2 separate regions of the Homo sapiens genome follow, and region 1 is linked to region 2. A link means that fine-mapping ties the variant in region 2 to the plasma level of a protein whose gene starts in the linked region. Region 2 holds a variant in brackets. A gene starts in the other region. All regions are shown on their forward strands.

What was found. A credible set is the group of variants that fine-mapping cannot tell apart. PIP is the chance, under the fine-mapping model, that this variant and not a neighbour inherited with it causes the effect. Protein levels are from antibody-based Olink assays in UK Biobank. Linkage for the fine-mapping came from a reference panel and not from the study's own genotypes, which makes the PIPs less certain.
Region 1: it holds the start of LACRT, and the variant in region 2 is the best candidate, but not a certain one, in a credible set for the plasma level of the LACRT protein (UK Biobank, PIP 0.53).

What each region holds. Positions count from the first base shown.
Region 1 is chr12:54,631,690-54,637,068 of GRCh38, forward strand. It overlaps LACRT (lacritin), which reads right to left and starts at 3,206. Exons shown (of 5, transcript NM_033277.2): 1 at 3,095-3,206; 2 at 1,491-1,544; 3 at 552-692; 4 at 49-150. The coding sequence starts at 3,152.
Region 2 is chr7:7,326,120-7,331,498 of GRCh38, forward strand. The region is part of intron 1 of LOC107986764 (a long non-coding RNA gene); the gene reads left to right. Among named protein-coding and RNA genes, the nearest start is that of LINC03016, 74 kb to the left of the region's middle. The variant T/C (reference allele first, on the strand shown) is at 3,103.

The sequences.
Region 1 (5,379 bases), not on the chromosome of region 2:
TGGTGAGTATTCTCATTCCCACAAAGCCTTGCCTTGGGATGCACTCACTTTCGATGAATTGTTTTCCACCTGGCACGCCTCCGTGCATTCCTTTTCCTGCTTTTGCAAGGGCTTGTTCTGTTAGTAAGATACTTTTCTCCACTATGGATTCTAATTTTGGAGCAGAACAATCACATCAGCAGAAAAATCACCTCATTTAAAGAGAACTCTGCATTGCCCCACCTGCACCCGCCCCCCACCCCCACTCCACCCAGGACATCATCCCTACAGAAAGTCCTAAAGTGCAGAAGTTTTGCTGAGGGCTCCAGCACTTCTCTCATAGGAAGTTGTGTGAGCCAGGACAGAAACCATGTATTGTGCAGGCTGCAACATCTACTATTGTGAAAACGTTGTGTGTGGGTGCAATGCACAATCCCATTTGTGCCTTTGTGTTCAGCTGTTTGAGTCTACCTGCTTCTCACCAGGCTTATCTCTGTGCGTGGAGGTGTGATGTGGGCCTGCAGCCAGAGACTTTTCTAGGTTGTTGATCTGGCATAGAGACAGAGACTTACTCAGGGGGTTTAGTTCCTGCCTGCTTGAGGTGACCTTGGCTGTCCCCTGAACTGCTGCCGCCGAAGTCTCCTGGGCTGTTGTGGTTGTCTCTGGGGGTGAAGCTGGTTCTGCTGGACCTGAGATCTCTTCATTAGGCTTAGCTGTGAATGCACAAATTGATGGATTTTAGCAAAGTGAAAGTGTTTGTTTCTTTTGGAATGGGTTGCAGGGCCCCAGGATACCTAATGTGTGCTGGGTGCCAGGATACAGAAGTGATATGGCTTAAACGCTGCCCCCTTAAGGGAGATAGCATTTCTGCATGCTGTGTGTCTCTTGGAATGCAGCGGGCAGGGTTGGGGAAGGATTTGGACTAGGGGATGGTGAGAATCGGGGAGCACTTCATAGAGAAGCTGGATCTTGAAGGCAGGATGTTAGCAGGAGAGGATGTACCAAAGGGGCTTCCCTGGGGGCAGGCAGTGAGTAAGAGGTCAGGCGAAGGCATGTGTGGGGAATGGAAACAAGTTCAATTTAGCTGATGTGGGTGCGACATAAAAGAGAGTCATGGAAAATGGGGTTGGAAAATGAGGTTAGAGGCCAGATAATGGTTATCTTGCTAAGGAATTGGGAGTAATGGGAGGTGTTTGCAGGTGAAGGTATTAATGCCATGTGAGACATTGCCCTTACCACTTAACCTCATGTTTCTCTCCCTTTTATTCACAATAACCTTTTCCCCATGCTCCCTATTGTCCTTGCCTCTCTGGGTCATCCTCTTTTGTCCTTAGCCTTGTACCATTTCAACCCATGCCACCTTCTTTATTATATTACCTGCCCCTCCCCATTACCACCAAGCACAGAATCCAGATCTCCTCCCACTGGCTTCTTCTCCCAGCCACCACTCACATCCCTAACTGTTAAACCTTCCCAACGAGGGCTAGGGCAGCAGGGAGAGGAGGACTCACAGGTCCCAGCTTCCTGGGCAGGATCAGCACCCGTCGAGTCAGAGGAGGCATCTTCTGCAATGGGGGAAACATGCCAGATGAGAGCAAGGACCGAACCGGACCTACTCGAGCCACCCTCCCCTCCCATTCCCAAAGCTTATCTCCTGGGAATGCTCATGGATAGAAGGGGATCAATTTCCCTTTGGGTTGGACATGCCCTTCCACCATATCAGCGGGTCTACTGGGGCACTCTCTGATGTTTAACTCCTGTGGCTTTTGAAATAACTTCCCCTCTGAGAAGTGTAATGTCTCTTGGAACAGTGCCTTCCTCCTGACTGGCCCCTGGCTTGGTAGGCTTCCCTGAGGTGTCTGTCATGGAGCTGGCCATGGTCAGAGGGGCTCAACCTCCTCTGTGGTGGAGGAGGACAGTATGTGGGGGTTATGGGGCCATATTTGAGCGATTTGCAGGATTGAGACCCCAGCCTTGATTCCCTTTATTCTTTCAACACAACATTTATGCAAAGCTCTGTGCCAAGAGATGGAGGTGCAGTGCTGAAGAGGGCAGACAAGACCCCTGCCCTGACAGAGCTTACATCTGTCCTTTTACGAAATTATTTAATGGCTGGTGTGACAGTGCTGGAAGGGAACGTGCAGCCTGGTGCGAGAAGGGCACATGGATCTGATTTGTTCCGCATGTGCATGGAAGGCCTTTTTGGGGAATTATATGTAAACTGAGATTTTCTAGATGAAAAATCATTGGCCAGGTGACATTAGAGTTGGTTGGGGGAAGGGGCCAGGGAGAGGGAAAGCATTCTAGACGAGGAAAGGACAAGAAGGAAGATCCTGATGTTCAAGGAACAGCAGGATCATCATGGCCCAAATAGTGCTTCTGTGGATCAAAAAAGGCATCCCAGCAGGGCACGGTGGCTCACGCCTGTAATTCCAACACTTTGGGAGGCCAAGGCAGTCGGATCACCTGAGGTCAGGAGTTCGAGACCAACCTGGCCAACATGGTGAAACACCGTCTCTACTAAAAATACAAAATTAGCTGGGCAAGGTGGCATGAGCCTGTAGTCCCAGCTACCCAGGAGGCTGAGGCAAGATAATCGCTGGAACCCAGGAGGTGGATGTTGCAGTGAGCAGAGATCGTGCCACTGCACTCCAGCCTGGGCAACAGAGGGAGACTCGGTCTCAAAAAAAAAAAAAAAAAAAAGGCATCCCTTCCTCCTAAGAGACACAGCCAGGGGCCAGGCTCACTGCTTGGCAAGTAGAGTGTCGGCCAGATTTTAGCTTCTACCACTCCTTGCCTGGGCACCCTCGTGTAGGGGACACCCTGCTCAACTACATGCAGGGGACACCAGAGAAGCCAGTGTAGCTGAGGCATAGTGGGTAAACAATGGTGTGTGAGGAGATGAGCTGGGAGGGCAGGCAGAGGCCAGAGAGTTCTGGGTTCCTCTGGCCAGTGGGGTGCAGAGGCCACGTGTGGAGAACTGGGAGAGGAGTCACTTGCAGAGGCAGGGAAACCAGAATAGCACTGAGAGAGGAGGAGAGGGGTGAAGGCAGGAGTGAGGGGCTCCTTGGACTGGGAGGACTCTTGTGGGGCGCAGAGGAAAGGCCATACTCACCAGCATAGACCAGGGCCCCTGCTACAGCTGCCAAGAAGAGGAGAGTGGTAAATTTCATTCTTTGGGATGAGGAGTGAGTATAACCACAGAATCTGCAGAAGGTCTGGGGAATAAGGATGCTGAAATTGCTGGGCCCTTTTAAGGATATCAAGGGCCAATGGGAACCAAGCCTGGAGAGGTGTGACTTCCGCATCCTCCTCCCCTTCTTCCCCAAACTGTCACCTGCTAAGTCAACAAGGGCTAGGTTGGGCTGGCTGATACCTGGGATCCTTGCAGGCAGGTCCTGGATAGGAGCCTTTCTCTAACTCCCAGCCATCCCTTTTCTTTCTCCCTCCTCCCTTCCCCACCACACCTGCCCTCTGGGTTCACACCCCTGGGCTCTCAGGGACGGTAGGTAGAGCACATTTCACTTGGGGAGATTCTGGGATGTGTCTGTTGAGGGTTCTGGTAGAGAAATCTTAATCTTGTCATCTCTCCAGGAGGAGGTTGAGGGCTCAGGGGATTACATTGTCCACCTTCTGTCCCAGTCTACATAGGACTCAGTGCAGGGTTTGAAGGTTTCCCCAAACTAAGTGAGCCCGTTTCCTTGGGAGACCACACCTAGAACACTTGAGGCCTGAGTTCCTGGCTGCTTTCTCCCCATGAGGGGATGGGTTTGAAGGCGTGTGTGCCTTCTCTGGAGTTGTTCTCTGTTCTTGACATTATCCAGCCCCTAAAAAGAACTCCTCCAGGCTCACATAGGCCTGTCAATCTCTGTCTTCAGGCCTACTCAATGGGACCCCACATTTCTGAGAGAATCTCCTGGTCAAAGCATGATGGTGGTTCACTGAAATTGGAGCTTGGTTCTGACTTCAAGTGGGGAGCTGACCCATGGTGTGAATAATCCAGAAAAGCAGATTATTCTAAAGAAGCTTCTCTTTGACTTGGCGTTTCTTCCTTTCCTGATCTGGGACTCTAGAGGTCTGGATTTTGAGTTCTGGCTTTGTCATATGAAAATGTTAGGATTTGAAAAGTGATAGGATTTTTATTTGTTGTCTAGGAGTTGTGGCTCCTATGTACAGCATAGTGGTGGAGATTAAGTGGGATAATATACGGCAAAGCATTTTTTTAGACAGCGAAGTTCTATGGAGTTGTGTGGGGTTCTTGTACCATCTTTCCAAGTAGGTTTTTGTCCAGGCTGGTGCTAAATGCTAGATATTAATAGAACGGGCCGTGGAGCAGGAGTCAGTTGAGGGGCTGAAGGGTGGAGAATAAGGTGCTGGATGTCAATTTGTGACTTTCCCCTTGCTTGGTGTTGGCATTCACCCAGCCCCATGTGGGCTGATTCCGGAGGCTTCTCTGCCTCATGGTAGCTCTGAAGATGAGTGTGAGAAGGGGGTATTGAAGAGTTTTCAACATGAGGGTGTTTTGGGTGCCAGGGTTTAGAACATTAATCTTTTCAGGAGATAAAGGAAGATAAAATTAATGGGGTGGGACATTAAAGCCTTGGCAATTGCTACCTGCCTGAGGGTCTGGGCCTGGGAGCCTTGAAGGTGGTGGTGGCCTTACCTGGAATGGGGAAGGCTGAAGAACAAGAGAAAGTTTTGATGGCACCAGTGCCCTGGGTATGTGCACATACGTGTGTGCACGTGTGTGTACACTGCAGAAGGAGAAGTCCTGCAGATCCCAAACAGATCTAGATCCCGAGCAGTCTCCATGAGCACATTAAAAAAGTCAACAGGAGCAAATTATGCTATTTGCACAAGACTTTTCTAAGAGGAAATGAGAACTTTGGCGTCAACACTAGAACTGTCACAGAGCAGGGTCTTTCCAAATGTCACCGCATAGCCCTTTCCTCTCCCAAATCTTCCTCCTGGCCTCAGTAATTAAAGAGGCAAGCATTTACATAAATAGGGATGAGGTGAAAGTAAGGACATTTGTTTTATAGAAAATTTTCATTATTCTATAACAGGGCCCAGAGAAATGTTACCCCAAATTATAGAGCCTGGGAAAGAATTGGGTGCATAGATTAAAGAGGCAGACCTCATGGATATGGGTGAGAGGCTGCTCTGTGCAATGTCTTGACGGACCTCATGGATATGGGTGAGGGGCTGCTCTGTGTGATGTCTTGTTTTCTAGGTTATCTGACCTCCATGATGACTGTCAGTTCGCTGATCTGTGTCTTGTCTCATGGGCTGCTCGTTGTACCTCTCTCCCCTCTGCCTCAGGTTTATTCTCTCTCATCTCTGCACTGGTCTGGAAGGATGCCTCTATGGGCTGTATCACCTGGGCTCCCATGCCCTCTA
Region 2 (5,379 bases):
ATTGCATTGTGAAAATGACAGATGAGATTCAGTATTAACATAAAGAAGAAATGGTGTTTTACAAGTAACAGTCAATGATAATTGCAAAACAATTCTTACAGCATTATGCATGGAAATGGGTATAAATCCTAGTGAATCTTATCTTGGATACCTCTACAGTTACGGTTTGCAACTTGAGAACACAGGACTGAAGAGGGCTTATCTGGATCTTAAGATTGTGGAAAAGAAAGCTAGGATTTTGATGAAGTGTAGATTTAAAATTCTAAGCCACTTGGTTCTAGGTCATATCCAAGGTCTAGGTTACACATTCAAGAGACTGCGTGAACAACTCTTGAATCTCAACTCTGCTTTAAAGGACACCCTGTTAAACAGTCCAAAAGTAAACGCAGTATTGCGAGTAGCTACTGCTATCTGATGCATATTTCTGAAATATTTCCTATATGAAAAGAAGTTGAGTTTCTGTTTCGGTAATTTGGCTGGCTGGAGTCAACCAAACCCATAGGTTTGACTCATAGCTGATCTACCTTTCTGGATACCTGTATCCCAGGAATGAACTGGAACCAAAAAGGCTGGAAGTTATTGTTTCTTCACTATTAGACTCTGAGGATTTAACAAACCACAGAATGGTCAGCACCCTGAGGCTGAACCAGAACTGACCAGCCCTTGGGAGTGGGCTCTTTGTGAAGGATCCTACCTGGTCAGTTACCCCATTCCCAGCCACCCTGACCAATAACTTTGGCAGTTAAAACAATAGCAACCTATTTATTGAAATTAGAACTGTTTTGGGGTAGTTACTTTCCTTTATAATTAGCTGTGTGACTAGTTAGATTAACTCACTAAAGTGACTAGCTGAAAATCACTATGAGCAAATCATTTTAACTTCAGGAACTAAGTTCTGATATTTGTAAAATAAAAGCCTTGGACTCAGTAACAATTAATAAACTATAAACTTCTATTAAGATTTATGGTAAGAAACATAAACTTTAAACAATTTAGGATATTAACCATTAGGGGAAAAGTCTAGGTCTTATTCATCTAAAACTCCCTATTTCTTAAATGTTTCTACTAAGTCAATCTTGGAGTTATAAAGATGCCTAACTGATAGAGCAACTTTTTTGGATTTCCTTAATAATAGGGAATACACATACTTCATGAAAATCCCCAATATTGTTTACATTAGAATAAAATTTAAGTATTGGACAGAAGAGTTTAGATTACAAGAAGAATTCATTTAAATAGCACCTGACGTTCCCTAACAACAGTGATTTTATGAAACATTGTAATTGATTTGCCACCTATGTGTGGATCTATCCTAAACTGACTCCTTTAGTTTGCAGGTTCGTTGGGGATTCAATGTCTTTTACTTCTTTTTCAGTCTCAACAACAGCTAATTCAGTACTCTAAATATAGTCAGCATTCAATACAAATTTAATTATTGACTGAATCTAGGCTGTCAGGGGAAAAAAAGATTTGCTACTTGTTTGGACATGTCTCTCTGATTCAATGCCACTTTTGCCTTACCAGCTAATCAGTCAGTAGACTAAGGGTGGTGCATTTTTGATCTTCCCCCTTAAAGAAGGTCAGTGGCTGAAAATGAGATCCAGAGTGATTACATTAGAAGGATTTTCATGTGTACTCCATCAGGGAGATTAAATGTCCAGGTGCCTCCCACGTTTCCTTTTAGGACTTGTTCTTAGTCTTCATACTTCAAGGGCTCAAGAGCAGCACTGACACGCAACATATTCATTGTCCATCCCCAATTACGTTCTCAAAAGGTAACTGTTACATATTGTATTAGAGTTCTCCAGCTAAACAGAACCAGTAGGATGGAGAGAAAGGGGGCTCGAGAGGAGGAGGGAGATGGGGGAGAGAGAGAAGGAAGGGAAGGGGGAAAGGGAAGCTGGTAAATCTAAAATTTGTAGGGCAGCCTGGCAGGCTGGAGACCCAGAGAAGAGTTGATGTTGCAGCTGAAGTGGGAAGGAAGATAGGAGGCAGAATTCCGTCTTCCTCAGGAGACTTCAGTTGTTTCTCTTAAGGCCTTCAATTGTTTGGATGAGGCCCACCCACACCACAAAAGGTAATTGGCTTTACTCAAAGTCTGCTGATTGAAATATCCTTAGATCTAAAAAACATCTTTATAGCAACATCTAGACCAACGTTTGACCAAACATCTGGGCACTGAAATCTGGGCAAGTTGACACAAGGAATTAACCATCACACATATCAAAATGGGACATTTTCATCATTCCAGTTATCTTTTGAAAGTTCTCTGATTTCTTTCACTATTTAAAATATTCTCCAAATAACAAACAGTTCGCCAATGCTGATAATTCTTTTTTTTTTTTCCTTTTTCTGTTTTTTTCTCTCTTTCATAAGACAGGGTCTCACTTGGTCACCCAGGCTAGAGTGCAGTGATGTGATCATAGCTCACTGCTGCCTTAAACTCCCGAGTGCAAAGGATCCTCCCACCTCAGCCTCCCAAGTAGTTGGGACTGTAGGAGTGTGCCCTCATGCCCAGCTAACTTAAAAGAATTTTTTTTTTTATAAAGACAAGGTCTCACCATCTTGCCCCGGCTCGTCTCAAACTCCAGAGGTCAAGTAATCCTCCCAAAGTGCTAGGATTATAGGCGTGAGCCACTGCACCTGGCCATGATTTTCTAATTACAGAAAGAAAAAAACTTTCTATGGTCTTTCACTGCCTCCTTCCACCAACTCCTACTTCAGATTTTGTTCATTTTCTCCATAAGTATTATACATTGGTGCTTAGGAGACAAAGAAGAGACATGGGTTCCAACCCTCAAAAAGCCTGTAGTGGGAGAAGAATGTGCAAATGATTGCAGTGGTGTGGGGTTTCTGCTCAGGTGTTTGATAGAACAGTAGAGGAAGTAAAATTTAATAAGCTTATTAGCATATAGGTGGTGCTTGCATACACAAGCCCTGTTTGGGCTGCACATACCCTCATTGTACAATGGTTAGAAGTATGATTTCCCCAGGAGCTGAGTCTAAGGGCATGTGACCATAAAGGTTTATAAACAAACTCATCATCTCAACCCCGTCGCCCCCGTATACACTCAGCTGAATTAGTTTAGTCTCTCAGTAACA[T/C]GTGTTGCCCAAGGAGATGAAATTTACCTCAATGGCAACTTCTCTTTATGTCTGCTTAAAACTTTACATTTCTCTTCTAGCATTTTGTTCATTAAACTCCAGATTTTAAAATAGACTCTATAGGTACATCTGTAGTTGATGGAGCTGAGTCTGAGGATGGAGTGGACAAGAGTGCTGACCTGTGTCACTGAGACCAAAGCAAAGCCTCTTTTCTCACAGCACCATGGGGATGTGATTATACAGCTCTGGCACTAGCTCCTCAGAGCCAGCAAGGTATTAAACAAGCCCAGACTTTTCACTAAGCCTTTGTCCCCCAGGCACTGCTGAGAAACCACTGCCAACAGGAATTGAATTCTAGGAACCAGCATGCCAAGAAACACACCTCCTGGAATTTTGAGCATTTGACGGAGGTCTGGCAAGCCCTCCTTCTTCTTATTGATATTAGTAGTAGGGAGGGGGCAGAGGGGCTTGTGGATAGAGACTGGAAATTTTCAAAGATGTCCAGTTCTAGACCACAGATAGCATCTTCTGTTTTTAGAACTGAGAGCCAATACCATCAATGGAATAAGGAAAGTTATTATTGGTTTTGCCCCTTCCAGATTTAAGAGGGTCCTGTCCTCTTCCAACCCAAAAGCCTCCTGCCACTTCTCTTTTTTTCTTTGCTCCCAGGTATGAGCCCCATTTATTGTCTCAGGCCAAGATACAAAGGTGGAGAAATCCTGCATTCTGCCCAAAGTGTGAAGGGCTCTGTGTTGTAGATGGTGCTGCTGTCAGTGGGCTGCTTCATGTTCTTGACCCACATGAAAGAATTTGAGAGTGAGTCCAAAGTAAAAGCAGGCAAAGACATTTATTGCAAAGCGAAAGGACACTCTGCAAGCCAGGTCAAACTGGGTTCCTTGAGAATAAGACAGTCCCCTCTGACATTAGGAAATCTCATTTATGGAAAGCTTATGTGATTATTCATAAGAGGGTGGGAATGAGCCTGGCTGTTGGCTTAAGCATGTTGCAGGTGGTCTCCTGGGCGTGCATGTGCAATGCTATCACATATATGGCATGTCTTCTTATTAGCATCTTAATTCTCTACCCAGGAGTGTGTTTTTTACTATTATAATGAGCACAGGTCATGGACACTAATCATGGTCAAGGACACTAATCATGGGTTTCTGTGCTTGTGCATAATTTGGGGATTTTCCCTTCTGCTCTTCGTCCTGTCTGCTGCAGGATGTCCTAACCAAAGCTGCAGATGCCGTTTCTGCACTCTCAAGCGGTTTGTTTTCTCCACCTGTTTGGCAAGTTTGTTTCCCTTCAAGTGACTCTATGACCATCTTATCTAACCTATCTCTGTGCCAGATATGTCTGTAATTCCTCTCTGAAATATTGGAGGAAGGAAACAGAACTAAGTTTCTCGATTATCCACTTCACATGCTTAAAATTCCAGTGCGCCATTAGATCCTAGAATGGTTCAGAGTGAGAGTTCCAGAGAAAATGGAATAATTAAGCAGCAAAGCCCAGGCATATACCATTTAATAAAGCTACAAAAAATCCTGAGATTCTGAAAGTAGAAGAAAAACATTTGGCATAAGACTTATTCTCCTGCTTTTTAAAATGATCCTCACATTTTCAATATATTCTGAAATTAAATGTTTCATTCCACTTAAATGACTTCTGCATATTAACCATCAGTCTGGGGCAAATTTTGTGTTTCTTTTCTTATGTTTTATCCTCCCAGCTCCTGAGAGCAATTACATTGGCTCAAGTATTTGAAAAATCACTCAAATTAAGGAATTGCAGTCCCTCCTATTCTTCAGTAGGCAAATAAGAAATATAGGATCAGATCCATCTCTCCCCATAGGCACATCTCATGGGAATCATAATCAGAAGGATGCTTCCGGAGTCTTTAATCTGAGCAAGGGGTCCTGGTGGGGTGATGGAAGTGTCCACTGGCGTCAGTCTGTGACAGCCTGATGTCTCTGTCCACAGCAGGGATGAATCTGGACACCAGATGGGGCTGTGACCTGGTATGCCCCATCCTCCTCTGCCAGAACAGGATGGGTGCCACCATGTGCAGTTTTAAAGTAAACTGAAAACCAGTTAGTTTTACAGATATTTGAGAATTGTGAATTATCTCTTGAATCAACATAATTTTGCAAAGCCATAGTTAATAGGATTGAGTTGCTGCACAAGTGCTTCTCAGTGGTCCGGAATCAACTTGTGTCCAAAATGCTGCTTGATGTTGATGCAGGAGGCAGCATTTCATTAGGCCAGAAGGAAATGCTG